7 linked regions of the Homo sapiens genome follow. The protein of the gene in region 3 purifies or fractionates together with the protein of the main gene of each other region. This does not show direct contact. Each region holds a gene or a part of one and is shown on either strand. Other genes may lie near its edges. The genes, in order: SEC16A, LIG3, SYNGAP1, IGF2BP3, GPHN, CNTN1 and PPFIBP1.

Region 1 (4,562 bases), on a different chromosome or scaffold from region 3:
CCTCAACCGCTCAGCCTCCCTCGGCTCCTCCGAAAAATGAGGGCACAGAGGATAGTGCCCACCTGTTCCCTGCGATCTTCCGCGGGAGGGCGTGGATGCTGCCTGGCCTGGCCGTGGCAGGCACAGGAGCGCCTACCCGCCTCACCCCTCCGCTGGGTCGCTCTGGCCGCCCGAGCGCCCGGGCCCACTCGCCACCGACGTGCACTCAGCCAAGGCTGGGACCCCAGCGCCCCTGTGGGGCTGGCGGCCGGGGGAACGAACCGAGTAGGCCGCACCTCCCCGGGAGGACAGCAGGGCTGGGGCCAGGGTGGGCCTGGGAGGGCCCGGCGCAGCAAAGGCGCAGGGCGGAGCTTGGGGACGAGGAGCCCGCGCGTCCCCCTTGCGAGTCGGCGGACACCCGGCTCCGCGCGGTGGCCGGGCCGCCCCTCCCTGCCCGGGCCTCTGTGCAGAGCGAAGGGACAGTAGAGGATGCGTCGGGGAAACCCCAGGACGCTGGCCAGGGACTGGCGGCAGCCATCGACCAACTTCCGGCGCCGCTCGGTGCCCGCGGCCACGCCGTAACCAGGCAACCAGCGCGCAGGCGCAGTCGGCCCTCCGCGTCCCGCAGCTCCGGCCGCTCCCGGCGCATGCGCGGCCGCCGCCGCCTGCCCTCCAGCCTCCCAGCCCAACGGAAGAATGCGAGGAGCGCGCCCGCGTCAGGGCCCCGCGCTTCTCAGCTGGGCGGAGTAGCCGTTCTCGGTGCGTGAGCCTGCTGGCATCGGTCCTGCAGACTGATTTCCCGCTTGTGGCCTTGATTGAAGAATCCCATCTCTTCTCACATCTTAAAACGAAAAAAGACTGGGAGAAAGAGCCAGCGTAAACAGGGCGACGTACTGGGACGGCCCCGGCGCGCCTGGCCGGGCAGGTGGCGAGGGGCGGGGCCAAGCGGTGAGGCGGCAGACGGACGCCGGAGGGGGGCGGGGCCACGGGCGGGGAAGGACGGCCGAGGGGCGGGGCCAAAGGGGCGGGAACGACAGGATGAGGCGGAGAAAGACGGACGACGGGCGGGGCTAAGGGGGCGGGACGAAAGAATGAGGCGAGGAACGACGGAAGAGGGGCGGGGCCAAGGGGAGCGGGAACTACAGGATAAGGCGTGGAAGACGGGCGGGGGGCGGGACGAAAGAATGAGGCGGGGAAGAACGGACGCCGGCGAGGGGCGGGGGCAGAGGGGGCGGGACAGAGGGATGAGGCGGGGAGGACGGACGCCGGCGAGGGGCGGGGCCGAGGGATGGGCTGTGAAGGGCTGAAAGAGAACGCGTCTGGGCCGACGAGCCGAGGGGCGGGGCCAGGGGCGGGGCGCGCGCTGATGTCGTAAGCCGGACACGTCGGCGGCGCGGCGGCCGCGGAGACCCGAGCCGGATGTGCCAAGATGGCTGCGGCGGCTGAGGTGTCTGTGCTCGTCGCCAGCGTCGGGTGGGCTTTCGCCCGCGGCTCCTGAGGGATCGGTCTCAGCCGCGCGGGTGAGGGGGCGAGCGCGGGTGAGGGGGCGAGCGCGGGAGGAGGAAGGCGGAGGCCGGCCGGCGGAGCCAGGCCGTGGAGGTCGGGGCGCGGAGGAGAGGAGGCGGCTGGGCCCAGCCCCGAGCGGGCGGTGCATCTCGGGTCCCGCCGGGGCCGGTCGAGGGGACAGACGTCCGGGCCCCCGGGCCAGAGCGGAAGGCCGGACGCGGCGCGGGCCGCCGTGGGACTCGAGGGACTGACGTGGACCCGGCTGGGCTGCGGTGACGCCGGTTCCCGGGGCGGGAGGCTGGACCCCCAGGCACCCCTCGTAAGACTCTTAACTTTTCAAATGAGCGTGTCTTGTCCTCACCGGCTAGAAGGCTTCCTTAGCGATGCTGGTGAAGAGACACATTTACATTTGAACCAAAGAGCAGAGTTGTTTGTTTGTAATTTCTTGATTGGGCGATCAGGATGTTGCAACAGAGGCCGAGGGTTAGAGGAGTGTGTGTGATCCGGCTCGCCCCTTTGTGATGGAAGTGTTACAGTAGAGCCTTCAGAAACATCAGAGCCATTTAAAGTCAGTTTTTGCCGCTTAAGAACACTTTTAAATGGCTTGTAAGTTGGGTGTGGATTGTATATTAAGATTTTGTTTTACATGTGTGATGCCGATGTTAACCAAAGAGGTATTTCCCATCCCCCATGTGGCAATACGAAGCAAACGGAACCGCAGACGGTTCTTCCTAGAAGTGATACTTTTGCAAGTTTCAGCACAATGCAGCCTCCCTGCGTTTTTTCCTCATCCCCTTTCTTAAGTTTCAGGTGCTGGTATCTTGTAGACAAGAGGCAAAATAGCGTGTCTTTCTTGTTCCTTGTTCCTCGTTTACTGTTAATAGTGGTTACTACAGTGAGTCTCAAAATTGTACTTAAAGTTTTCTTTGAGGCAGTGGGCACTTTTTTTTTCTTTTTCTTTGTCTTTTTTTGCCAAATCCAGCAAGAGGTCATGGTAGTGGGTAAATGTTAATGTGATTTCTTCTTCTGTAAGCATCTTTCATGAATACCAGGGTCTTCGTCATTTTCATCAGTGTTAGGCTGCTGGCCTCCTCTGTCGCTGGCTTCCTCTTCAACATCTAACTGTATGTGGTTGCGATTCTAACTTAGAAGAGTTGGAGTTGATCATGTCTTTGTGTCAAGCATCCCACAGTCTGACAGGGCGTCACTAGCAGCCACCGTGAGGGAGACTGTAGGCAGTAGGTAAACTCAGGGGCTTCCTGGCACACTATTGTTTTCCTCACTTAAAATATGAAGCCAGTGGCAGCAAGAGGAGAGGGGTGTGCATGCATTTTAAATGCCTCAGTTCTGTAGCCAGAACTGTACTAAAAAGAGTTTTGCTTAGGTATCCACATGGTTACAAGGCAGTTTAACTGACTAGCTAGGTTTATGAATACTGCATTTTCAAGATCAGCTGGCCTCTTTGGAACAATAAAAGAATTAGATGACTTGAGGTTACAGAATAAAATTCCCTGGGCCGGGCGCGGTGGCTCATGCCTGTAATCCCAGCACTCTGGGAGGCTGAGGCGGGCGGATCACGAGGTCAGGAGATCGAGACCATCCTGGCTAACACGGTGAAACCCCGTCTCTACTGAAAATACAAAAAAAAATTAGCCGGGCGAGGTGGCGGGCGCCTGTAGTCCCAGCTACGCTGGAGGCTGAGGCAGGAGAATGGCGTGAACCCCGGGGGGCGGAGCCTGCAGTGAGCCGAGATCGCGCCACTGCACTCCAGCCTGGGTGAAAGAGCAAGACTCCGTCTCAAAAAAAAAAAAAAAAAAAAAAAGAATAAAATTCCCTGTAGTGGTGACATAGGTGATAGGCAGTTGCATTGTTTTTCTCCTGGTGAGTAGAGAAAAAGATCAAAAAAATCAGTTCAAGTCACAAGATTGTTCCAAATGAAAGTGGCATGTTGCTAAAAAGCTCTCAATTAGGGAGCATGAAGGTTGGAATGCTCCTTGTAAGTGATAATGTTTGCCATAAAAAAGCTCTTAGTCTAGGAGAGCTGCGGAATAATTTTTTTTTTTTTGAGACGGAGTCTCGCTCTGCCCAGGCGGGAGTGCAGTGGCGCGATCTCAGCTCACTGCAAGCTCCGCCTCCCAGGTTTACGCCATTCTCCTGCCTCAGCCTCCCGAGTAGCTGGGATTACAGGCGCCCGCCACCACGCCCGGCTAATTTTTTGTATTTTAGTAGAGACGGGGTTTCACCGTGTTAGCCAGGATGGTCTCGATCTTCTGACCTCTTGATCTGCCCGCCTCGGCCTCCCAAAGTGCTGGGATTACAGGTGTGAGCCACCGTGCCCGGCCACCCCTGTTAAACAGCAGGTGGGATTAGGACATCCCAGAATCCACTGTGAGTAGAATCTCATAAGATTAAACCCGGGTTTTTTAGGAAAAAATAATCACATCGATTCTCGCATTTTATAGACAAAAATACATTGCAGAAAGAGGAGTGGCTGCCTCGAGCCACTCACCTGGACACTCAGTTTTGCTCTCACAGCAGCAGCCAAGGAATAAACCTCTAGGCCCGTGCTCTGTGTTTAAAGCAAACAAAAGCTTTTGAGGATGATAAGGATCTTCCCGGGGAAGGCCATGTCTTGAGAGATGAGGTAGGACCCCAGTTCTGGCAGCAGAGTTTCAGGAGGTGCTTGGAAGTTTGCGTGTTCTGGCCGTGGTTGCAGGTGTCGCTGTGTCTGCTGTGGCTGTGCAGCTGGTAGGACCCAGTGGAAGATAATGCCAGTGCACAGATCAGAGGAAGATGCTCTGCCTGTTCTCCTTTCAGTCCATATAAAATAGAGCTGTGAACATTCTTTGTTTTCAGATGAGAGCCTAAAACCTCCATGAAGCCTTTGCTGCTGTTCCTAGTAAATAGCTTGACTTAAAATACATTGATCAGTGTTTTCTTCTTTTTTTTTTTGAGACAGTTTCACTCTGTCGCCCAGGCTGGAGTGTTGTGGCTTGAACAAGGCTCACTGCAGCCTCAACCTCCCTGGCTCAAGCGATCTTCCCACCTCAGCCTCCCGAGTAGTTGGGACTACAGGC
Region 2 (3,898 bases), on a different chromosome or scaffold from region 3:
GTGATATGAAAGAGTGGTACCACATTAAATGCATGTTTGAGAAACTAGAGCGGGCCCGGGCCACCACAAAAAAAATCGAGGACCTCACAGAGCTGGAAGGCTGGGAAGAGCTGGAAGATAATGAGAAGGAACAGATAACCCAGCACATTGCAGGTAAGGTAGAGAACACTGCTTTCTCATCTTACTGGTGCTGAGAGAAAAAGGGATAAGGAGTTCAACTGCTTTCTTTCTCTTTTTTTTAACTTTGCTCTTTTAGAGATGGGGTCTCACTCTGTTGCCTAGGCCAGTGTTTAATGTTGCATTCGTAGCTCACTGCAGCTTTGCACTGCTGGACTCAGGTCATCCTGACTCAGCCTCCCAAGTAGTTGGGATTACAGGCGCATGCCACCATGCCCAGCCTTTAACGTTTTATTTGGAAATAATTTTAAACTCACTGAAGTGTTGGAAGATTAAAAATAGTACAAAGAACATTCATATTCCTTTTACCCATATTTACCTATTAACATTTTACTCTATTTGCTTTATCATATTTGTTCATGTGCTGTCTCTCTCTACATACATACACACGTGTGCGTGCACTCACTTTAAACCATTTGAGAATAAGTTGCATACATCATGGCCCTTTAAAATTCTTCAGTGTATATACCTTAAGAATAGGATATATGACCCTTATGCGACTATAATATAGCTATCATCTTCAGAAAATTTGTCCTTGATGTAATACTTAAATCTACCATCTGTATACTATTTTGTCAATGGATTGAGTCATACCTTCAGTAGCCTTTTCCTGCAGTATAGGATCCCAGTCTAGGATCATATCAGGTGTTGCATTTAGTTGTCATGTTTCTTTGGCCTCCTTTAATCTGAAATATTTCCATAGTCTCTCTTTTATGACATTGATATTTTGGAAGAATAGAGTACTGATTACTATCCTCTTTTACTTTTTTTCTTGTAGCATATAATTCATTACTGTACTTAACTAATTTGATACTTAATTGTCCCATATTTGGCCAATTAGGAACCCCTTTACACTGTCCTCTGTGTCCTGTATACCTTCATTAACTTTTTTTAATGTACTTCTTTACTCTTGAGCATAGCAAGATGCTTTTAGTCTTATCCCGTATGTATCCTTCCCCAGCCCTGAAATTGGTAATTTCTCTGGGGATTCCTGTTAGTGGGAAATGCCCCTGTTAAAGAGTAAAACCTGGATACTATGTGTCCACATTGTCATGGGGTATCTGTTTCTTCTTTTTTTTTTTTTTGAGAGTCTCACTCTGACCCAGGCTGGAGTGTAGTGGCACTATCCTGTTAGTGGGAAATGGTATTAAAGAGTAAAACCCGGATACTATGTGAACACATTGTCATGGGGTATCTGTTTCTTCTTTTTTTTTTTTTTGAGACAGAGTCTCACTCTGTGACCCAGGCTGGAGTGCAGTGGCACTGTCTTAGCTCACTGCAACCTCTGCCTTCCAGGTTCAAGCAATTGTCCTGTCTCAGCCTCCCAAGTAGCTGGGACTACAGGCACTTGACACCACACCCAGCTAATTTTTGTGTTTTTAGTAGAGACAGGGTTTCACCATGTTGGTCCAGCTGGTGTTGAACCCCTGACTTCAAGTGATCCACCCACCTTGGCCTCCCAAAGTGCTGGGATTACAGGCCTGAGCGCCCAGCCATGGCATGTCTGTTTCTAAGCCCTTTCAGCAGACAGAGCTAGAAAATATGTGCGTGTATATGCATGTAAAATTCATACCTATATATGGCTATATATAACATGTTTGCATGTACATGCATATTTACATATGCATATTTTAGAAATTTTATGCCAATACCCCCAAATCCAGTTAGTCCTCTTTGACCTTCAGTGTCTGTAAAATAATGTTCATATCTTCAACTTAGTTCTGGTCACCATAGGAAGACAGTTAACAATGGCTCTAAAAATGGGTATCTGTCCTTGTTCTTTGAAAGGAAAAAAGACTTCCGGGAAAGAAAACTGTGCTTCCCATATACTTTATTCTCAGGCTCCCCATCCCACCTTGCACTGCCTTAGCTATTGGCCTCGGCCTTTGTTACTTCTTGACCCATCTCTCATTTGGAGGAAGAGAAATACAGGTAGAGTTCATGACTCAGATAACTAAGCATCTGGAAATTTTCCTTCCTATGCTAGGTTGACATGCTCTGTGATCCTCATTTACTTTTTGTTCATCTCTAAATTGAAGCTAATTCTGTGGGGTTGGGGGTTCCCTAAGTTTTATCCATCAAACTATGATTTCTGATTTCCCCCAAATTGTTATTTCTGGAGACTTACATATGGGATAAGAAGTGGAGAATGTTGATGAAAATTTAAGGTACTAATAGAGATAAATGGTAACTGGATCTTTTGTCTCCAGCATATCCTTCCCTTCTGTCCCCACAATACCCTATTACCTACTACCCCCACTCAAAAAATACCAGCCACCAGCCAGCCTTGGGCTAGTGCTAGGGTAGTGACTTAACAAGCAAGGCCCTAGGAGCAGTTGATAGATTCTTTGGATGTTTTTTTCAGAGATCGTTCACTGAAGGATATTTTATACTCTTTTGGGATCCTACAGATCTGTCTTCTAAGGCAGCAGGTACACCAAAGAAGAAAGCTGTTGTCCAGGCTAAGTTGACAACCACTGGCCAGGTGACTTCTCCAGTGAAAGGCGCCTCATTTGTCACCAGTACCAATCCCCGGAAATTTTCTGGCTTTTCAGGTAAGATAGGTTAGGGCTACTTTAGCTGTTATAGTGCTGCTTTTATTTTGTATTCTACCTAGGATTCTGGCTAAAGAGTGAAAATTCTGTGCTATCTCATCTCATTAATAATTTGCTTCTGTCTGAGCAGAGACTGGTAATGGCTAATTCTAAGCCTTCCGCTTGGTTTTTGTTTGTTTGTTTGTTTTTTGGTTTTGGGGGTTTTTTTGAGATGAAATCTTGCTCTGTCATCCAAGCTGGAGTGCAGTGGTGCATTCTCAGCTCACTGCAACCTCCGCCTCCTGGGTTCAAGCGATTCTCCCACCTCAGCCTCCCAAGTAGCTGGGATTACAGGCACCTGCCACCATGCCTGACTAATTTTTGTATTTTTAGTAGAGATGGGGTTTCGCCACGTTGGCCAGGCTGGTCTCAAACTCCTGACCTCAGGTGATCCACCTGCCCCAGCTTCCCAAAGTGCTGGGATTGCAGGCGTGAGCCACTGCGCTCGGCCAGCATTCCACTTGTATAGCATTTCTTTGTATACTTTAACCTCTATCGCAGCGGAAAGATTTGTTTTGTCAAGACTTTTTCCCCTTGAAATAGTTACCTGGGCCAGACAGAGATTATTAGAACCTGTCTTTTACTTCCTTGTGTTTTGATAATGAAAGAATTTTGAGAAATTGTTTCCCTGAATATGCCTAGAAATGAAAGTATGAAAGAAGGGAGATGTCATGCATGGATCTCCCTTCTTGATTCTTAAAACTGTTTATTCAAAACACTGGAACTTCATGGAACACAAAGGAAGGAAAAAAAGATCTGAAGGATATTGCTATTTGTTGGGAGGCAGTACAGCCTAGGGATGAAGCTTGCAGACTTTGGAATCAGTGAGCTCTGGGTTCAAATCCCATCTCCTAAAGGGGAGGACTGTGGCTATTATTTGTAGGACAGATGAACAATAAAGTGTTAAGTTTCCTGTTCTCTTCACTAAAATACACACATGCACACACGTGTATACACACATATATAGTTTCTTTTATATAAAATATAGAATTACTATTTCATAGACAGGGATTCAGGAAGACTTTGCTGGGGCATGTGGTATAGATAGGAGTTGAGAAGATCAGGATCATTTATTGGCCTTACGTAAACAGACAGCATTGGACTAGGGGCTTTTATATATGTAGTTT
Region 3 (4,365 bases):
ACAATGTGCCTAGTGACCTCCCCTGCACTGTTTCCGAGGTCTTAAGGAGTGGGAGGGTCTGAGAAGGACCCTTCACCCCAAACTCAGGGGTTAAGAGAGCGCCCCCTGCCCTTTTAGTTGGGCAGAGATATGCCTGGGTTTGGGAATGAACAACGGTGATCTAGAAGCCCGCTGTCCCTGGGTAGCAGGGAGTGATTAGGCAGGCACGGGCATGGCAAGACAATAGCTAGCTGAGGAAAGAAGCATTTTAAAACAGAGCGAGACCCTGTGGTAGAGGATGGTGAAAATGGGGCCTAGCCATCTTAATTGAAAACCCAAAGCTTGAGACAGACTACTGAATCAGAGGGAAGGAGAACGAGGGCTGCAGGATGGGGACAGTGGTGATGGTCCTTCTGTCCCCTCTTCCCTGCCTATTCCACTCCCCAGGATTGGTCCACCTCTCAGCCTCGGGTCTCCTTTCCCTAACCCATCCCCCAAGGAGCCAGGACCTGCCCTACATAACTTCCCTGGGGCCCAAGCACATCCTGTGACCCAAAAATGGAGAGAGGGGCCAATGAGAGGCAGAGAGGTGGGAGGAGGTGCAGAGAAAAAAGCTCTTGCCACTGCCCCCACCCAATATTTCCCCTCCCTTCAAGGTCTGAGGTCATTGGTCTGGTGGTGGGGATGCCTCGGAGTTTCCCAGGCTGACGTCAGGGTTATACCTCTCGGAGGTTCTAGGGCAGGGAAGTGGGGAGGGGAGGTTCCCTGAGATCTCTGTCTTTGAGTTTGGAGTTTGTCTCTGAGACAGATTTCGGAGGGGTCTTTCAGTATTTGTGTGGAGATCTTTCTTAGGATTGAGTTTCCTTTTATGCTTCTGGTTTGGGGGGTTTCTATGTTTCAGGGTCTGTGGTCGCACTCTGAGGTCTTTCGAAGTCTTCTTCATGAATTTTGGGTCTCTGAGTTGTCCATCTCCGGACCAGCTGAAGTCTCTATCTCCCCTTAAGTCAGGAGTGTCTCTGTCTCTAAGTTATCAGTCTCTGAGATCTGAGTCTGGGGTCTCTTTCTAGGTCTGAGTTCTCTAAGCTCTAATTCTACATCTGGCTCTTTCTGAATCTGGGCCTCATCTTTTTCTGAGTCTAGGTCTCAGGTCCTGGTCCCTGAAATCATCATCTCAGGGTCTGGAGTCTAAGATATCTGTAGGTATGGAGAACCCTTTTTAGACTGGATTTTCAGATTTTGATATTGAGCTTCTCTCTCTGGGGGATCTGGGGTCGTTTTTTCCTCAAATCAGGAGTCTCTTTTCCTCTAGATTTTGGCCCTGTGTCTCAAATTACCCCACAGTGGGGGGTGGTGAAGTATCTTTCTCTGTGGGTCTAGGGTCTCTCTGTCTCAGGGTCTGGGGTCTGCATCTTTAGGACCTCTGTCTCTCTCTGGTGTGTTTTTGAGTCAGGGGTCTCTCTCTCTCTCACAATCTGGGCCTCCCGGAGTAGGGGTGGGGGCTGCAGAGTCTCTCCCTCCTCCTCCTCCTCCTGCTCTCTTCGCTCTCGCTCGCTCCCCCGCCCCCCCTCTCTCTCGGCTGCCGCTGCTGCCGTTGGCTCTTATTCTCCTCCTCCTCCTCCTCTCTCCTCCTCTCTGCTTCTCTCTGCTCCTCTCTCCTCCTCTCTCCTCCTCCTCCTCCTCCACCTCCTCCTCCTTCTCCCCCTCTTTCTCCCCCTCTTTCTCTCTTCTTTCTCCCCCGTCCCCCCGCCCCCTCCCCCCAGGCCTGATGAGCAGGTCTCGAGCCTCCATCCATCGGGGGAGCATCCCCGCGATGTCCTATGCCCCCTTCAGAGGTACGTGGTGGGGGGAGGGGGAGGGCCATATGGGGGGCAACAGGGGGAGGGGCAGGGGGCGGGGGAGAGTCGGGGCCGAGGGAAGGGAGCGGCTGAAATGGAGGGAGAGGGGAGGACCGGGAAGGCAGGGGTGGGAGCAACCGGGAAGGAGGGATTGGAGGCCAGAGGGATAGGGGTAGATAAGGGATGGAGGGGCCAGGAAATGGGCCTTGAAAGGGGGCTGAAGGGAAAATGATGAAGGGGAAAGAAAGCGCCAGAAAGGGGTGGGAAGGTAGAAGGATTGGGTTGGGGAAAAAGCTGCAGAAATAATTTGGGGGTGGGAGCTGAGTGATGAGGAAAACATCAAGGAAATAGAGGGACAGAGTCTTGGGAGAGGGGCTAGGAAGGAGAAATGAAAACATAGGGGTGAAAAGAGAAGCCAAGAAGATGTGGGGGGATAATTTGGTGGGGGACTCAGAGTATGGTAAGGGGCGGAAAAAGAGAGGAGGATGGAGGGAGAGAAGGGGCCAGATGGAGAGAGAGGGAGGCAGTGGGGGGTGGGGGGATGGAGGGTCCAGATGGAGGGAAGAGAGAAGAGAGAGGGAACGGTGGGGGAGGGGAGACCAGGGCAGGGGGAGGGCCAAATTATGTGTGCTTGGGGGGGTGGCAGTACAAGTAAGATGAAATGATGGGAGTAGGGGACAGGTTAGGATCCTGCCCCAGACTCTGACCCTCTTAAAGGCTCTTGACCAGTAAAATGTAACCTCTGGGGTCTTAATGCTGTCTTCACTTCATCACTTTTACCCCCTTCCCCCACCCCTCCAATCCTTATTTCCATTCCCCCTCCCTCCTCTGCTGTCCATCACCTATATCTTTCCCCCCATATGGTGTCCGTTCCTTATATGAGTCCCCCTTCTGTCCTTCCCCTATATCAGTCCCCTCTCTGGTGTTCATTGCCTCTCTCTTATCTCTTTTCTATGTGGTCGCTCCCTTATATCTCTATCACTTCTTTACTAGTCCGTCTTGACCCCTTCTCATAGCCTCCGCATTAGGTCTGCCTCCTTTGCTCTGACACATGTCCAGTCGAGCCCTTCAGGTGTATTCCCTTGCCCCTGGGCATTTACCATCATTTCTGCCTCCTTTTCTATCTACTCCTATTATTTGTCTCCCAGACCATTCCTTGTCACCACAAGTCTGTGCCTACCCACTTTCCCTTAATACCTCAACTCTTATTATCATTTCTCTTTTCTTGTCTCCTCTACTTATTGGGGTGTTGGAGATTTGGGGTACAAAGACACAGGTTTTGATGATTAGAACAAGGGATCCCCATCTCAGCCCTTGAGGGATTTCTCATCCTAGTAAAAATTTCCCGTTTCTCAGCCATGTTGCTCTGCCTCTTGCATCTGCCTCCCAGAATCATTCTTCACCAAGTCCAGACAGTATGTGTGTGTGTGTTTCTAGAGTTGTTCCTAAGTTCCCTGCTGCCAGGAGAAAGATGCCCTCTGAAGTCTAACCCGCCTCCCTTGGCTGCAGCCTGAACCAGCCCTTTCCCCAAATGCTTATGTGTATCAACAGATTTCTCCTCTGGGTATACCAAGTGTCTAAGTGCGGTGGGCATGTTGCCTGCAATGTCTGTAGTTTCAGAGGCTAGGTATTGGTGATCTCTGTATCTAGAGAACATTAGTTAGTCTCTGAGATGGGTTGAGATAGAGTTTCAAAGTATGTGGTTTCTAAATGGTGGACATTCTGAGGGTTCATCGCTCACTGTGATCTGGAGGTTGGGTAAATTTGAGAGACATATTTATAGACAGAAAAGGGCTGAATTTGCAAAACTCTGCTACTCAGTGCATTCTGTTGGAATGAAGCTCAAAGACCAGTTCTCCTGCAGTATACTCATGGTTATCCCATAAAGGTGACAGAGTTTGATCTTTTTTCCATCTAAAATCTGATACCTTAAGCCTAATTTCTAGCTCTTTGCTGTCGCCAATGTGACATCTCTCTTACTTCAATAGGGCCTGTGTGGCATTGGGGTTTAAAGGAGAGGCAGTTTGCAGGGAGAGCGGCATGGCAAGAACAACAGAGCTGGGGAAGGAGGACCCTGGTCTCATCTCAGCCATAGGCGACACTTGGTCTACTGTTCTCTCTTCTCAAAGTTTTGTTCCCATCTCCAGCTCTTGTCTTTGGAGGCCCCTCTGTGTCACCAGGCCTGGATATTCCATTCTTTCCCCCTGACATCTTTCTTCCTCAAGCTCCTCACTGTGCCTTGAGAAGGCTCCTGACCTATGGAGTGGCTTCCATCCTGTCCACTGAGACTAGGTGGGGTGAGGTGGTGGGGGCAGTGTTGAATCTCTGGGCACTGAATGGGAGAAGAGATAAATTTGGTCTCTACTTGTCCAAACAAGGGCATATTTCCCACCTTCTGCCCTGGGGCCTCCACAGCCAGATGCCGACAAAAGCCATCTTCTCCTTACCACCAGAAGAACCAGAACTTTCCCTAAAGGATGAGCAGGGTTGAACTAGGGGAGGAGGGCACAGAGGAGGGAAGAGTTGGGAGGGGAGGCCCTCTCATGTCTCT
Region 4 (3,898 bases), on a different chromosome or scaffold from region 3:
AGGTTAATATGCCTTGGAAACTTGTTTTCAGATGTTTTCCCTCCTGTCCCTGAGATTGCCTAGACTTGAATTAAAATGCCCCCTTTTTCCTTACCCTTGGATTATCTCTGTTAGACCCTGCCCATAGACTCTACAAATCTCTCTAATCCCTGGGATCTTAGAGATAGGAATGGCAGGAGCTCTTGTAGCATTTGTTCTGGTATGAACCATTGCACGTTTAGTGGGATTTGAGGTCTTTGGGGCTGCAGTGTGCCTTTCAATGTCTACTGAGAGATGGTAGAGCTGAGACTTGGCAGCCAGGCTGCTAGTTCAAATCCTAGCTCTGCCATTTGCCTTGTATGACATTGGGCAAGTTACTTAACCTTTTTCTGTAAAACCAGGGATAAGAGCACCTACATCCTAAGGTAGTTTAAGGTTTACACAATATATGAAATGTTTAGAAAAGTGCCTAACACATGGGCAGCACAAAATTAGCGTGCTGGGGGTATTCAACAGACTATGGATGAATCAGACTAAGACCATGCCAAATTCATAAATATATTCCTTTTAGTGTATGATTTCTCCCACAAAATTTAGTATGGGTGTCTTGTCTTAGAACATTTAGTGGCTGTGTAAGAAGACAACTATTTAACCTTAAGCTGTAGTTTTTTTTTTCTCTTTTTTTTTTTTTTTTTTTTGAGACAGAGTCTCACTCTGTCGCCCAGGCTGGACTGCAGTGGCGTGATCTCAGCTCACTGCAAACTCCACCTCCTGGGTTCAAGCGATTCTCCTGCCTCCGCCTCCCGAGTAGCTGGGATTACAGGCATGTGCCGCCACGCCCAGCCAATTTATTTTTAGTAGAGATGGGGTTTCACCATGTTGGCCACACACTCAAACTCCTGACCTCAAGTGATCCGCCCACCTTAGCCTCCCAAAGTGCTGGGATTACAGGCATCAGCCACTGTGCTCCTGGCCAAGCCTTAGTTTTTTTAGCCTTAAAGTGTAACAGTAACTAGTAACAGTGCATACAGTTCTCTCCCCACCCCACCTCTCTCCCTTAAATCAAACAAAAAAAATCACTTTCTTTGACTTCTATTTTCTCTGGGCCATTTTTTCACTAAAAACCCAAAGCTGCTTTCACTTATGTGAAGAATGGGAAACGAAGGAGGTGCTTTGAGATGTGGGTGGTTAGGTGAAGAAAGAAAATCATGTGAAGAAATTTATTCCTTCACAGCAGCCTTGTGATCCAGGCAGTTCAAATCTTAACTCAGAATTGTTGAAAACTGCTTCCTATCCCAAACTCTCAGGGTCACTTTTAGTTTGAAATCTTAAAAGATAAATACAAACATGTCTTTCCTTGGTGCTGAGCTTTTAGTCTTATAAGTAGAATTACTGTCCTGCAACTCCTATGATGTTTGTATGATAGGAACTTCAAAGTTCTTTCCCTGTATTCACTAATAAAACTCATGTTTTATAGTTAACTTAAATGTAACACTTAAGCCATAGTAGTTAAATTTTATTTATGTGATTGGTGACAATGCTAAATGAATGTTTTACTTTAGAGATCTAAGGAATGGTAAACCACCTACCCCGTATTTTTCCTTACAAATTCAAGAGCTTCAGTTTTGGAGGATAGTGTATATCCCTAGTGTCTTTTTGACTGTCTTAAGTAATAGTAATATCTACGTCATTGGCCTGAGGCATTAAGGATCATTGGAATATAGGGTATCAAGATGAATTTTGTTTTGTCGGTAGTGCCCTAAAATGAGCTCAGCTTTCTGAATCAGTGAACGCGTGTTGGGTACTATTGTTTTTTGTGGTTTACCCTGGCAGCTTGTCAAACCAACTCTCAGGCTCCTTTCTGCTTTGCTGTATGTAATAGGTTGTTTATATATAATAGGTTGTTTATATAGTTGCATGCAGTAGGTGATAGGATGTATTGACTCTAAATATCAGAAGTGTCTTGGCCAGGCGCGGTGGCCCACGCTTGCTATCCCAGCACTTTGAGAGGCCTAGGTGGGTAGATCACTTGAGTCCAGGAGTTCCAGACCAGCCTGGCCTACATGGCAAAACTCCATCTCTACTAAAAATACAAAAATTAGCCAGGCATGGTGGTGGATGCCTGTAATCCCAGCTACTTAGGAGGCTGAGGCAGGAGAGTCACTTGAACCCAGGAGACAGAGGTTGCAGTGTGCTGAGATCGCACCACAGAGAAAGAGACTCTGTCTCTAAAAAAAATAAAATAAAAAAATAAAAAAAAATAAAAGGCAGGGCACAGTGAGTGGCTCATGCCCATAATCCCAACACTTTGGGAAGCCAAGGTGGGTGGATCACCTGAGGTCAGGAGTTCAAGACCAGCCTGGCCAACATGGTGAATCCCCGTCTCAACTAAAATAACAACAAAAAATTAGCTGGGTGTGGTGGCGGGCACCTGTAATCCCAGCTAGTTTGGGAGGCTGAGGCAGGAGAATGGCTTGAACCCGGGGGTCGGAGGTTGCAGTAAGCCGAAACCATGCCATTGCACTTCAGCCTGCATGACAGGGTGAGACTCTGTCTCAAAAAAGAAAAAAGTGTCTTACCTTGATGTTGTAGCCTCTTTAAAATATTCAAAGGAAAAACCACCTTTCTAAGAGTATGAAACACATTTAAATTGAAAACATTTTTCTCAGCAGGTTTCTAACTGGCCCATGTAGATGTGAGCTTGACTTTTAGTGAGCTTGGCATAGCTGACTCTGCAGTTCTGTCTCTTTTGCTCAAAAAAAATGTGACCAGGTGTGGTGGCTTGCACTGGTAATACCAACACTTTGGGAGGCCAAGGCAGGACTCTTGAGCCCAGGAGTTTGTGATGAGCGTGGCAACATAGCAAGACCCCCATCTCTATAAAAATTAGTGGCGCAGTGGCTCACACCTGTAATTCTAGCACTTTTGGAAGGCTGAGGTGGGCACATCACTTGAAGTCAGGAGTTCGAGACCAGCCTGACCAACATGGTGAAACCCCATGCCTACTAAAAATGCAAAAATAATTAGCCAGGTGTGGTGGCTAGTGCCTGTAGTCCCAGCTACTCAGGAGGCTGAGGCAGGAGAATCACTTGAACCTGGGAGGCGGGGGTTGCAGTGACCCAAGATCGTGCCACTGCACTCCAGCCTGGGCAACAAAGTAAGACTCCGTCTCAAAAAAAAAAAAAAAATAAGTCAGGTGTGGTGTTGCATGCCTGTAGTCTGCTACTCAGGAGGCTGAGGTAGGAGGATCGCTTGAGCCCAGGAGGTTGAAGCTGCAGTGAGCTATGATTGTACCATTGCACTCCAGCCTGGACAACAGGAGGACCCTGACTCCAACAAAAAGGAAAGAAAAATGCAACTGATGTCTCATGGCCAGCATGAGAAGTTTTACCTATCACAATTTTAGTACGAATGGCCATTTGCCCACAAAAATTCGTTTTTATTAGGTTATTAATTGCCTTTAACTGTTTTCATCAGAAGAATATGGTTTATCCTTCTTTCACCAAGCATTCAGTTGCCTCTACTGTGATGGGCAGTAGTTATTGTCAACCTTTTAGGACTTCTAACTGCTCTCTTCTATGTTATTTTCAACAATCTATGAAATGTAGATGTATCACTGCAAAGGGCTATCCCACTTGGATTTGGGCCATCTTTCAAGTTAACTGACCTTTTCCATTTCATACATGAATGACACTAATAGGATGTGTTTTCATCTGCAGGCTCAGGGAAGAATTTATGGAAAAATTAAAGAAGAAAACTTTGTTAGTCCTAAAGAAGAGGTGAAACTTGAAGCTCATATCAGAGTGCCATCCTTTGCTGCTGGCAGAGTTATTGGAAAAGGAGGCAAAACGGCAAGTACTTCAGCAAAACCTGTGCAGTGGTATGAAAGGGAAAGCGTTGAAAGGTACTTAGGAGTTCC
Region 5 (3,898 bases), on a different chromosome or scaffold from region 3:
TACATTGATACTGTTTTATTCTTTTCTCTTTCTCCTTTATTAATCTGGTCTACCAGTGAGTTTTATGCTTGTGTGTGTTTTTATGATAGTGATTATTGTCTTTTTTGCTTCCAGATATATGACTCCCTTGAGAATTTATGGTAAGGCCAGTGTAGTAGTAATGAATTCTCTCCATTTTTGCTTGTCTGGGAAAGACTATTTCTCCCTCATTTCCAAAGGATAGCTTTGCTGCATATAGTATTCATAGTTAGAAATTTTTTTATTTCAGCACTTTGAAGATGTTATCTCCTTTCTTCCTGTCCTGTAAGGTTTCTGCAGAGAAATCTACTGTTAGTCTAATGTGGATTTCATTATATATGACTTGATTTGGAGACCTTTGGAATTCCTGGACCTGGATATCCATACCTTTCCCCAGACTTGGGAAGTTTTCAGCTATTATTTTATTAAATAAGTTTCTTATGCCTTTTCCTTTCTTTTTTTCTGAAACTCCAATAATATGAATATTTGTTCTTGTATGGTGTCCCATAAGTCTTACAAGCTTTCTTCACTCTTTTTCATTCTTCTGTTTCTCTCTGTCTCTCTCTCTTGCTGGGTATTTCAAACAACCTATCTTCCAGTTCAAAGATTCTTTCTTCTGCTTTATCAAGACTGCTATTGAAGCTCTCTATTGTAATTTTTTATTTCATTTTTTGAATTATTCAGCTGTAGGATTTCTGTTTGGTTCTTTTTTATGATTTCTCTATCTTTGTTGAATTTATCATTCTTATGAATTGTTTTGCTGATTTTGTTGAATTATCGCTAGGTTTTGTTTTTGTTTTTGTTTTTGTTTTATCTAATTGAGTTTCCTTAAGATCATTATTTTGCAATTTCTTTTCCAGGAGTTCATTGATTTCCTTTTCATTGGAGTCTGTTACTAGAGATGTATTCCTTTAGTGGTGTCATATTTCCTTGCTTTTTTGTGTTTCTTGTGTCCCCATGTTGATCTGTGTGCCTAGTGGAACTTTTGCTTCTTTCAGACTTTCTGGGTGGTTTTGTAGAGACGCCTGTAGTTGGGCTTTAGTGTGTTGGTTGCAAAGGGTATGGTGACTTTCTGGACAGGTGCAATGGTGTAGTCTCCTTGCAGCTTTTTCAGTTGCATTCAATGTCAGTAATAACTGTGAGTACCTCAGTGGCCTAATCCATAGAAGTTTGTGTCAGTGGTAGTAGTGGCATAGGCTGTTAATATCCTTGGTGTCAAGGGCTTTTAGAGTCCTCCTCTTCTTGTTTTCCACACAATAGGGAGAATCAGCTGAAGGGATCCCTCTTGGTGTTAGGTCTGACATGCCCTCCAAGCAGCTACAGTGGCACTGGGCTCAAAATATGGTGCTTGGAGTGACTGTGGAGCCAGGATCCAAGGCTCAGGGTCTTGTGAATCCATTGTGGCACCTGGTTCTTGGGGTTCAGGTTCACTCTCTGTGGCAGAGTTGGGTGTAGGTTATCCAAAGAACCAAGGTTTATGACTGAGGCACCCCCTAGCAGCTTGGACCCAGGTGCCCTGGTTGTACCTGTGATTTTATACCTCATGGGTAGGGTGTAGTACTGACCAAACTCCAAAGAAAAAGGTTTTGGCCAGGGGAGCAGGGTATGGCCGCAGCTCAGGAACCAGAGCCAGTAGGGCTCAGCAGCAGCTCGGGTCACAGTGGATAAGGTACTGTGTAGTAGTGACCCTAGACCCCTGGATGGTGGGGCTACGCAGGTCCTCACTTCAGACTCTGAGGCCAGGTGCAGAAGCAGCAGATACCTTAGAATGGCAGAGCGCAGCTGTGGTTTGATCCCCGGGGGGGCCAAGGATCAACACAGAAATGACTCAACTCCCCAGAGAGGGGGGTATCTCAGCAGCTCAGACTCTAAGGGGCTATAGTCTAGCTCCAGAGAAGCAGGGTACTAGAGTTATTTGGCCTGTAGGTCAGGATATCTTGGCTCAATCAGCACTCTGTTTCCCTAGGACATGAGTGACTACATCAGCTCAGCCTGGGATGCGTAGGTGCTCAGCTTGGCAAAGTGTGTGCAACATACTTTCTAAGCCTTGCCATAACAGAGCAATATGTCTGGAAAAAGGATGATTAAAGAAGATTAGAAACTATCTCCAATGTCTGGATGGAGTTAAGGGAAACCAATAAAGGAATCTGCAGCACCCAGGAGCTAGCAACAGTGAGATTTCCTTACCACATCTTAGTCTGAAGGAGCAAAGAAAGACAATGGTACCTGAACCTGGGAAGATTCATATCTGTGGGAGAGGACTGCCCAACAGCAGCTCTTGCTCTCAGTAGGAGAGATGCCCTAACCATCACCAAACTGCAGCCCAGGAGGAAAAGAGCAAGGGGAATGAAAACTCTACTTTTCTGTCTCTCTCCTACCCTCTACATCTCTTACTGACCCCTCCCTTTGGCTGAGTCTCACCAGACGCCAAAGTGGTGGGAAACTGGTTAAAATAGTCCATAGAGGTCAGCTTCTGGACCACAGCACAGAGTAGAGAATGATGATGTGATCTGGAGAGGCAAACAGAAAATGAAACAAATCTTTGTCTTTGTAAGGCTTATATTCTGTAATATATAATGCACTTAACATTGTACCTAGCATAGATTGTGGGTTCAATAAATATTAGTTATTGGTAGTATTGCTTACAGTAATAATATTATGGAGAGAAGATTTTTAAGACTTTTGTAATAAATTTCCTGTTTTACTTTGATTGTACTTTCAGTAGTAAGGTATTTTTTTTTCTTAACCATTCCCTAAGGGGTGTGTGTGTGTGTGTGTGTGTGTGTGTGTGTGTGTGTGTGGTTTATTTTACTTTGTCTTATTTTGGTGGTTAAAATAACAACAATGACAAAACATACACACACATAACATTAAATATACCATCTTGACAGTTTTTAAGCTTATAGTTCAGTAGTGGTAAATATATTCACATTGTAGGGACTTAAGATTTTAAATAGAGTCATGAGTTACTTAATGAAGATATATTCTGAGAAATATGTTGTTGGGCAATTTTCTTGTTGTCCGACCATCATAGAGTGTACTTACACAAACCTGCATGAGTAGCCCACTACACACCTAGCCTACATGGTGTGACCTGTAGCTCCGAGGCTACAAACCTGCACAGCATATTACAGTATTACTGAATACGTAAGCAATTATAATGGTATTTGTTTATCAAAACAAAAAGTACAGTAGAAAATATGGTAATCTTATAGGACCACCATCATATATGCAGTCCAACATTGAGCAAACTATCCTTATGCAGCACGTGACTATACTTATGAGGCAGACATCTTTAGAAAGGAATCTTTTGGCAGGGGGGATTAATATTGTCTCAGGATTTTTTCTTAGGGAGAATTTGAAGCATTCATTTTCCAAACTCCAGTCTAAATCATTGCCCCTGACAAGTGACTTTCAGATCACTTCTCTATCAGATCAAATCTATCAGATGAATCTTACAGAAAAATGCTTTTCCTCATGTTGTAAGAAGTTAGCAGGGAAGGTTCTGTCTCTTATACCATCAATATGAGAGCACAAACAATGAAAATCTTGTTTTTCATTTTCAAAAGTAATGTTTAACCTAGGTCATTACAGACACTGGAATCATTTTTAAATGATTTAATTATATTTGCTCAACCTCTATTATTAATTGATAGGTGAGCTAATGTGTTTTAGAATATTTTCAAAGGCAATAATTAAAATATTTCTGGCTTGCCTTTATTTAACCAAAAAGTTTAGTTAATAAAGTACTGCATTTCTCAAACATTAGAACTTCAATAAGTTATGAAGATTTTTTTTTGTAATTGTTATTCACAATGTATGTCCTAGCAATTTTTTTACTTACAGACTCTCAAATCACTTTACATATATTAGGAAAATG
Region 6 (3,898 bases), on a different chromosome or scaffold from region 3:
AATGATTTGGGGATATTTTTTTGGTAGAAGGCTATGCCTTGGGAGGAAACTTCCTCTGGCTTTATGATCCTCTCCATGAGGAGTAATGGATGACATAAGGTGTTTCTATATCTTTTCATAGAATGACTCGGTTCTACAGTAGGGATTATGACTATGTACTGGTTCTATGTATTCTCTTGTATCTTGTGTCCCTTGAGACCAACTAGGAAGAGCTGAAATAGACAATTTATATTTCTGTATACAAAATATGTCCTGTAATTGCCTTATTTCAAAAAAAATCAACAAATTCTCCAATTTCCATCTATTTCTACATGTAAATTGGCCATGGTCTCTATCATATCCCACAACTTATTCTAACTCACCAGTAAGCTCCTCCTCAATTCCAATGTTTGTTTTCTTTTTATTGATGTATTATCGATTGTTCTCTTCTGACCTTCTATTTTCCATATTGTCCATCTTCTTGAAATTTTGCTCCTTGACACCACAATGCTCTGATAGCGTACTTTTTTCTTAATTTTTCTAACTTTCCTTTCTTTGTCTCCCTCTTATCTTCTCTTTCTACTTCTAGCTTTCAAGCAAATCCCCCAAATTGATGACAATTTATCTTATTGAAAATAAAGTTCTCCTTCTGCATTTCCATTCCTAATCTCCCTCCCATTAGCCATTTCCTTTACACTTACCCTATCGGCTAAGAGCACAGGCTTTGGGAGGAAGCCTGCAGGTGTTAATATTTATGTATCATGATGCAGTTAAGCGAACATCAGCAAGTCAACTGGGGATTATCATAGCACTTACGTGAGAGGATTTTGTGATTTGTAAAATATTAAGTGAGATAATGCGTGTTAAACATTCAAAATAAGGTTTGGCCCATGGTAATTACTCATAAAGAATAGCTATTAATAATAGAAGTGCTATTGTAGCAATTGTAATGCACAAGGTGAAAACTGGTTTTGCTTTTTCCCCATCAATAGGCATCATTCCTAAACTGGCTTTTATCAATGGAGACTACAACTTTACAGGCTTTCTGGCTTGTGGTTAGTTACTTTTTAAGACTTTCTTTCCTCTAGTCCAAGTGTTCACCATATAGTCAGTAATTGATTCATTTTTATTTTCAACTCTAATTTGTATCTTTCTCTGCTTATTCCAGCACTAGTTTCTTCTGGCACTCCATGCCTGGATGAGTCCAGTAGGCAAGTTATCAAAACTTCCAATTTATAAGTCTATCTGCTTTAATCTAAGATGCCATGTATTATTGGTATAATGTGTTTTCAATTTTCATTAGTGCTTCTACTTTCCTTTGAAACTTTCACTGTACTTTAGTTCGTATCTTAAAAAGCACTGATTTTGGAGCAGGAGACTCAGGTTCAACTCCTGACAACAGGACTGATCCGTTGTGTGACCTTGGAAATGTAGCAGCAGGAGGATGGGGCATTATTTCACTTCAATAATATGAATGACCAACTGTGTAAAGTTACACTCAAAAGTCTATCTATTTAATATTCAATTGAAAATAATATCTTATTATTATAAGGACATCTAAAATCATTAAAGAAATACTGGGAATAAAGAAAAATCCACCAAATTCCGCAGTACAAAGAGATCCTATTTCAATCTTCTAGTCTTATTTCTATTAATATAAATAGGTATTTTTCAATTATAGATTTGAGTTTACAGTGAACATTCACTTTTGTATTTAGCTTTTTAAACTTAATATACCATAAACATTTATTCATTTCATTTAATATTCTTACTATCCATGTGTTTTTTGGCTGTCAATATTCTATGATAGATCTTCAGATTGTTTTCAGTTTTGCATCGTCAAGAACATGAACCTTTGTATACATTAATATTTGCATTTCTGACCATTTCCTTATGACACCTTAGAAGTTACCCAGGCAAAAGTGTAAATATTTTTAGCCTCATAACACTTACTGCCAAATTGCTTCCCCCAAAATGTAAGCACAGATTTATTCTCTACCAGTGGTTGTACCAGTTTGGCCATACTCTCATTAACACTTGATATTATTTTTAAAAATTGGGATCATTTTGATAGTACAAATTGTGTATCTAGTTATTCTTCTGAGTTATTGTTCCTATGATTTTGGATGAGTTCAAAAATGTTATATTTATAGGTTCTTTGTATTTTTTAATTTGTGAATTTCATTTGACTCTTTATTGGAGTGTTCATATTTTCTTCATGTAATAGGAAATCTGAGGTATACTGCAAAAATTGTCTGCATCTTGTTCTTTGCATTTTAAAAAATGCTTTCTAACACACAGAAATGTATAGCTTTACTGTAGTTTATAAATCTATTTGCAGTAGTGTCTCTTTGTAGCTTTCAGGTTCAGAAAACTTTCTACCACTTAACGGAGAATTGAATATAAAAACAACATGTGACGGTGCTATTGCTGAACTTCTTTCCTCCTTTGAAGCAGAATCTGGCTTATGTATATCATATGTATATCCCAGTGCGAAATGGCTCTGGGGACACATAAAATCCACTCAGTCTATTAAGATCCTATTATTCTTTAGGCAGCTCTCCCATGAAGTGAATAGTACCTTAATTCTTTCTGAGCTACTATTGTCCATTTTAAAAGAGCCACAGGGCAGAATGCACTATGGAAGATATTAATGGCCAGGTTACTCAGCCAGAGCAGGGCACATTGTTTGCACAATTATCTGAATGACTCAGGCACTAAATCTGCTTCTGCCAGGATTATCCAGATGGTCCTTAACTCAGTAGATAATTTTTCACTCCTGTACTTGATTTTGATGGTGTAGACCTGAGCATGTCACCACTTTTCCTGCACTGTCTTGTTACTACTCAATTTGCTTAGGGCTGGTTGCTTTAGTTTCTTTTATGAGAGGCAGGTTTGCCCGGTTCTCCAGAGCATAGGTGTTAAGAGTTATGCAGAGCTTTGCATGAAACCTAGCTCAGTCAGTTACTAGCAGCGTGCTTTGAGGCCAGCCACTTAATTTTTTTTTTTTTTTTTTTTTTTTTTTTACGGAGTCTCGCTCTGTCGCCCAGGCTGGAGTGCAGTGGCGTGATCTCAGCTCACTGCAAGCTCCGCCTCCTGGGTTCACATTATTTTCCTGCCTCAGCCTCCCGAGTAGCTGGGACTACAGGTGCCCATCACTACGCCCAGTTAATTTTTTTGTATTTTTAGTAGAGATGGGGTTTCACCGTGTTAGCGAGGATGGTCTTGATCTCCTGACCTTGTGATCCGCCCGCCTCGGCCTCCCAAAGTGCTGAGATTACAGGCGTGAGCCACCATGACCGGCCATGAGACCAGCCACTTAAATTTTTTTACAACATTGTTTTCTGTGTAAGAAACATATTCAGAGTTTGAAGTCCCTATTTCATTCTCCTCCCTCATAGTCGCCTTCTTCTAAGTACATTCTATATGTCATAACCACAGTTGTCTTTCTAAAACCAATTTCATCGTATTCTTCCTCTGCTGAAAATTTTTTGAGTTAGTTCCCCTTTTTTTGTATTAGTAAGATGTCTGAAGTCTTTTGCATTGCACCTAAAGTCCTTTATTAAATGGTACGTGGTAACTTCTCTAGATTCATTTTCTGATTAATCAAATTTCTTCCATCTCCAATCTCCCGTAATGTCAATCAACTGAACGGTTTGCCTTCTCCTAATGCATCTTGTTTCCTCTTTTCTCGCAACACCCTCCCATGTTCCCCATGTTCTATTCTCTACTATAAATAACCTGTTTTCTTGTCTGCTTTTTAACTGACCTAACCTTTTCATGCCTTGGGTCAGGTGCCACCATTTCTTGGAGGACTTCCCCTGAATTCCCAGTCTTAAATTTTGACTCCCTGTGGATATCCCTGCCGTGTCACTTACCATACTATATTGTACTGATTGGTTACTTGTCTCTTGCCTCC
Region 7 (3,898 bases), on a different chromosome or scaffold from region 3:
TCTTTTATTTAAACAGCTTTTTGTGAAGTAGGCTATAGACCTAACTACCCTAAGTATAATCTTTTTCAAGTAAGTAGCAAGTTTTAAACAGCCAACTTAAGTAGGCATTTCTCAATGTCAAAAAAATTTGGAGTTCAGTTCATGGATTTTTCTTCTCTGTCATTGAACCCAAGCCCCTTACCTTGATGAGCACATCACATAAACCTGCGTGAAATAATACTAATATGTGTAGTATGTTGCACATTTGCTATGTGTCAAACATCCTTTTAAGCATTTTGCTCATATTAATACTGGATTCTCAATAACCCTTTTAGTTAATATTACTAATATTATTATAGTGTGTATAATATATATTAAAAAGTTTTTAAAACTTTTTATTTTAAGATAATTTTAGATTTACAGAGGAGTTGCCAAAGCTAGAATTCTGTATACCTTTCACTCAGCTTCCTCTAACGTTAACATCTTACGTAATCATGATTACATTCATCAAAATTAAGAAATTAACGTAGATGTTAATACAATCAACTAAACTGAAGACTATTCACATTTCACCAGTTTTTCCAGTAAGGTCCTCCTTCTGTTCCAGGATCTAATCTAGGACACTACATTAAAACACACATTTTGTGACTTACGACTTCTGGGGTCAAATTTTCCAGGGTCATTTACTCTTTTATAGCCATTTCACATACGCTGCTTGTGATTTTAAGCTTGAATTTGTTCACATATATACTATATAATTATGTAATACTGTATATACATAGTATTATACACACATATGTAATACTGTAGATACATAGAGTATGTATATATATATATACACACACATACACATATATGCATGTTTGTATATATGTGTGTGTGTATCCATATACACACACACACACACTCTGTGTATCTATAGTATTATAATACTATTATTATCCCTACTTTTTTACATGTATAAAGGAAGGAATCGAGAGGTTGGGTAACTTGGTAACCAAGTTTCCACAGTTAGCAATAGAAAGTCATAGAGAGTTTGAACTCAGGCTGTTTCAAGATCCCTGCTTTTAATAGCTCACGATTATGACTAGAACACATTCAGTAAATATTTGCCTCCCTCTCTAAGTGTGAGTATGTTCCCCCTGAGAATGTGAACAAATTCAAGCTTAAAATCACAAGAAGCATCTGTGAAATGGCTATAAAAGAGTAAATGACCCTGGAAAATTTGACCCCAGAAATCCTAAGTCACAAAATATGTGTTTTAATGTGGATTAGATCCTGGAACAGAAGAAGGACCTTACTGGACAAACTGGTGAAATGTGAATAAAGTCTGCAATTTAGTCAATTGTACATTAATTTCTTAGTCTTGATGAATGTAATCATGATTATGTCAGATGTTAACATTAGAGGAGGCTGAGTGAAAGGTATACAGAATTCTATTCTATCTTTGGCAACTCCTCCACAAATTTAAAATTATTTTAAAATAAAAAGTTTTAAAAAAATTGGGAAGAAAATCACTCAGAAAGTCTGTTTTGATATAAAATAAAACTTTCTTTTTAAAATCCTTCGAAGTATAAAGAATTTCAAAAATAATTAACATTTTAATCACACTGTAAACATTGTGCATTCAGATATTTTTTTAAGCTGACAGACTAGTTAGATGAAAAGAGTCCAGACTGAAATGTTTGGAATGGGTGTCTCAATCCTAGATTAAAATAAGTACTCTTTCTAACATGTCTTAAGACACTACTTTTAAGGAATTACTCCAGAAAAACTTCAGGAAATAATTTTTGCCTGGTTAGTAGCCTCAAGGATTTAAACTGATTAATATTTTTATTAAATATTTCTGTAGTAGATTACATTTTTTTCTTTCTTTCATGAGAAGTGTTTTATCAGAAAGGTGTGTCTAAAATGGATGCTTTCCTTGTTTATTTTCTGGGTGTGTTTGGAAGTAGACTGTTGCTTATCTTCATACTGCTCCCAATATCACCTTCTTCTGAAATAATTTGTTTTGGTGTGTTTGGTATATTTGAAAATATTCCCAAGAGCCACAGACTGGTGAAAATTCTTCCTTGAAGGGGTTGATTGGTAATATATATATGTGATACTTATAACTTCATTTTTCTTCTCTCCTTGACTCTGACCAAAACCTTTGCACTGATTGATTATAGTTGTGCCAAAATTGTTCACAATGTCTGCTAGATAAACCATAATAATCTAGAGCTATTCAATAGCAGACAGGTCCTTACTAAAAAATAATTTAGAACTAGAGAATTATTAAGGTCAGGGAATAGTATAATAAGAGCACTGTTCTGATTTTCCCCAAAATTATGATGTGCCTTAGTTCAGAAAACCCAGCCTTGCTAGGAGCGGTGCCTCACGCCTGTAATCCCAGCTTTTTGGGCGGCTGAGGCCGGGGGACTGCTTGAGCCTAGGAGTTTGAGATAGCCTGGGCAGTATAGTGAGATCCTATCTCTCCAAAAAAAAAAAAGATGAAAAAAGAAAGCCAACTCTTGATCATGTTCACCAATGAGCATCATTCGCTCTTCACTATCTGCTGAAAGGAAACAGAGAGGGCAGTTTATCCAAAGCCTAAGTACTTTATCCACCGATAAAGTTCTCAAAACTAAAGAGGAAACAAATAAATTCCCTGTTTGTAGTATGTGCAGATCAAGTCAAAGCAGATCACCTTTTGTAGTGACCCAGCAAGTGCTTTTCTAACTGTGTTTTTCAGAGCCCTGGGGTTCTACAGATCTCAGAGCATCTGGAAGAGAGAGAAACAGGTGGAAGTCAGCTTCATTGGCAAAAAATACTAATCTGGGGTTTGGGGGAAGATTTTGTTCCAAATGGGAAAGTGGGTTCTGACAAGACCTTGGGGCATATTGGTTTGAGGGGCTCTTCTCCTTTTACTCCAGTTTTCTGAGATTCCCTAAGAAAGTCCTCCTGCTACAGGCCAGCACAGTGAGCTCCTCCTTTTGTTCTTTTTTGCAGGATGACTTACTGTCTCTGAAGGTTGTAAGTGTGCTACACCATCTCAGTATCAAAAGGGCCATCCAGGTCCTGAGGATCAATAACTTTGAACCAAACTGTCTACGGAGGCGGCCATCTGATGAGGTAGTGTTTTAAGATTGAGGTTTATAAGCATGCACTTCCCAGGCATGGGACTGTCCATGTGTCGAAACTAAGAGCCATTTTTCTTGGAGCCTGCAGGAAAAGCCTTAAAATCCAGCCTCATTTACTTCTTAGGCTTTTTCTGTATTCCTTCCTTTTCTCTCCATGACGGTTCCCCTTGTGTAACTAAAGCCAAGGGTTCTTTTTCAGTTATGCTTCTTCCTTTTCTTGGGTGTATTTTTTTTTCCTGACTCTAATCAACAGAGATAAATATCACTATAAAGACTTCCTTTTCTGGCCAAGTATAGTGGCCAATGCCTATAATCCCAGCACTTTGGGAGGCCAAGGCAGAAGAATCACTTGAGCCCAGGAGATCAAGACCAGCCTGGGCAACATAGGAAGACCCTGTCTCTACAAAAATAATAATAAATTAGCCAGGCATGGTGGGTGCACGCTGGTGGTCCCAGCTACTCAGGAGGCTGAGGTAGGAGGATCCGTCTGAGCCTGGGAGATGGAGGCTGCAGTGAGCCCTGATTATACCACTGCAACGCCAGCGTGGGTAAGAGAATTAGACCCTGTCTTAAAAAAAAAAAAGACTTCCTTTCCTAAAGCAATGCTTTATTAGTATATAAGAAAGCTTGAAACTCAAACTATGACAGAAATTCTTTAAAAGAGAATTTTTCCCTTTCTTTTTGCATTTAGTGGGTTGTTGAGTAACTGTACTCCATGGAGCAGACTTTTTAGACAGAAAATGCAATTTAATATTTAGGATCCTGGTTGTGTGTTCCCATAGAATACCATCGCCCCA

The links.
Region 1: the proteins of SYNGAP1 (region 3) and SEC16A purify together in Homo sapiens (co-immunoprecipitation; 2 studies listed by BioGRID and IntAct, with this or other methods). This does not show direct contact.
Region 2: the proteins of SYNGAP1 (region 3) and LIG3 purify together in Homo sapiens (co-immunoprecipitation; 2 studies listed by BioGRID and IntAct, with this or other methods). This does not show direct contact.
Region 4: the proteins of SYNGAP1 (region 3) and IGF2BP3 purify together in Homo sapiens (co-immunoprecipitation; 2 studies listed by BioGRID and IntAct, with this or other methods). This does not show direct contact.
Region 5: the proteins of SYNGAP1 (region 3) and GPHN purify together in Homo sapiens (co-immunoprecipitation; 2 studies listed by BioGRID and IntAct, with this or other methods). This does not show direct contact.
Region 6: the proteins of SYNGAP1 (region 3) and CNTN1 purify together in Homo sapiens (co-immunoprecipitation; 2 studies listed by BioGRID and IntAct, with this or other methods). This does not show direct contact.
Region 7: the proteins of SYNGAP1 (region 3) and PPFIBP1 purify together in Homo sapiens (co-immunoprecipitation; 2 studies listed by BioGRID and IntAct, with this or other methods). This does not show direct contact.

What each region holds. Positions count from the first base shown.
Region 1 is NC_000009.12:136,479,875-136,484,436, reverse strand, and holds the start of SEC16A (protein transport protein Sec16A), read left to right. Parts: upstream 1-1,396; 5' UTR 1,397-1,499; intron 1,500-4,562. UniProt on the Homo sapiens protein: Acts as a molecular scaffold that plays a key role in the organization of the endoplasmic reticulum exit sites (ERES), also known as transitional endoplasmic reticulum (tER).
Region 2 is NC_000017.11:34,983,400-34,987,297, forward strand, and holds part of LIG3 (DNA ligase 3 isoform alpha precursor), read left to right. Parts: coding exon 1-153; intron 154-2,588; coding exon 2,589-2,732; intron 2,733-3,898. UniProt on the Homo sapiens protein: Isoform 3 functions as a heterodimer with DNA-repair protein XRCC1 in the nucleus and can correct defective DNA strand-break repair and sister chromatid exchange following treatment with ionizing radiation and alkylating agents.
Region 3 is NC_000006.12:33,418,521-33,422,885, forward strand, and holds the start of SYNGAP1 (ras/Rap GTPase-activating protein SynGAP), read left to right. Parts: upstream 1-1,544; 5' UTR 1,545-1,744; coding exon 1,745-1,811; intron 1,812-2,481; exon of another isoform or gene 2,482-4,365. UniProt on the Homo sapiens protein: Major constituent of the PSD essential for postsynaptic signaling. Inhibitory regulator of the Ras-cAMP pathway.
Region 4 is NC_000007.14:23,313,454-23,317,351, reverse strand, and holds part of IGF2BP3 (insulin-like growth factor 2 mRNA-binding protein 3), read left to right. Parts: intron 1-3,698; coding exon 3,699-3,830; coding exon of another isoform or gene 3,831-3,883; intron 3,884-3,898. UniProt on the Homo sapiens protein: RNA-binding factor that may recruit target transcripts to cytoplasmic protein-RNA complexes (mRNPs). This transcript 'caging' into mRNPs allows mRNA transport and transient storage.
Region 5 is NC_000014.9:67,105,935-67,109,832, forward strand, and holds part of GPHN (gephyrin), read left to right. Parts: intron 1-2,439; exon of another isoform or gene 2,440-2,528; intron 2,529-3,898. UniProt on the Homo sapiens protein: Microtubule-associated protein involved in membrane protein-cytoskeleton interactions. It is thought to anchor the inhibitory glycine receptor (GLYR) to subsynaptic microtubules.
Region 6 is NC_000012.12:40,695,252-40,699,149, forward strand, and holds part of CNTN1 (contactin-1 isoform 1 precursor), read left to right. Parts: intron 1-3,898. UniProt on the Homo sapiens protein: Contactins mediate cell surface interactions during nervous system development.
Region 7 is NC_000012.12:27,684,415-27,688,312, forward strand, and holds part of PPFIBP1 (liprin-beta-1), read left to right. Parts: intron 1-2,970; coding exon 2,971-3,093; intron 3,094-3,883; coding exon 3,884-3,898. UniProt on the Homo sapiens protein: May regulate the disassembly of focal adhesions. Did not bind receptor-like tyrosine phosphatases type 2A.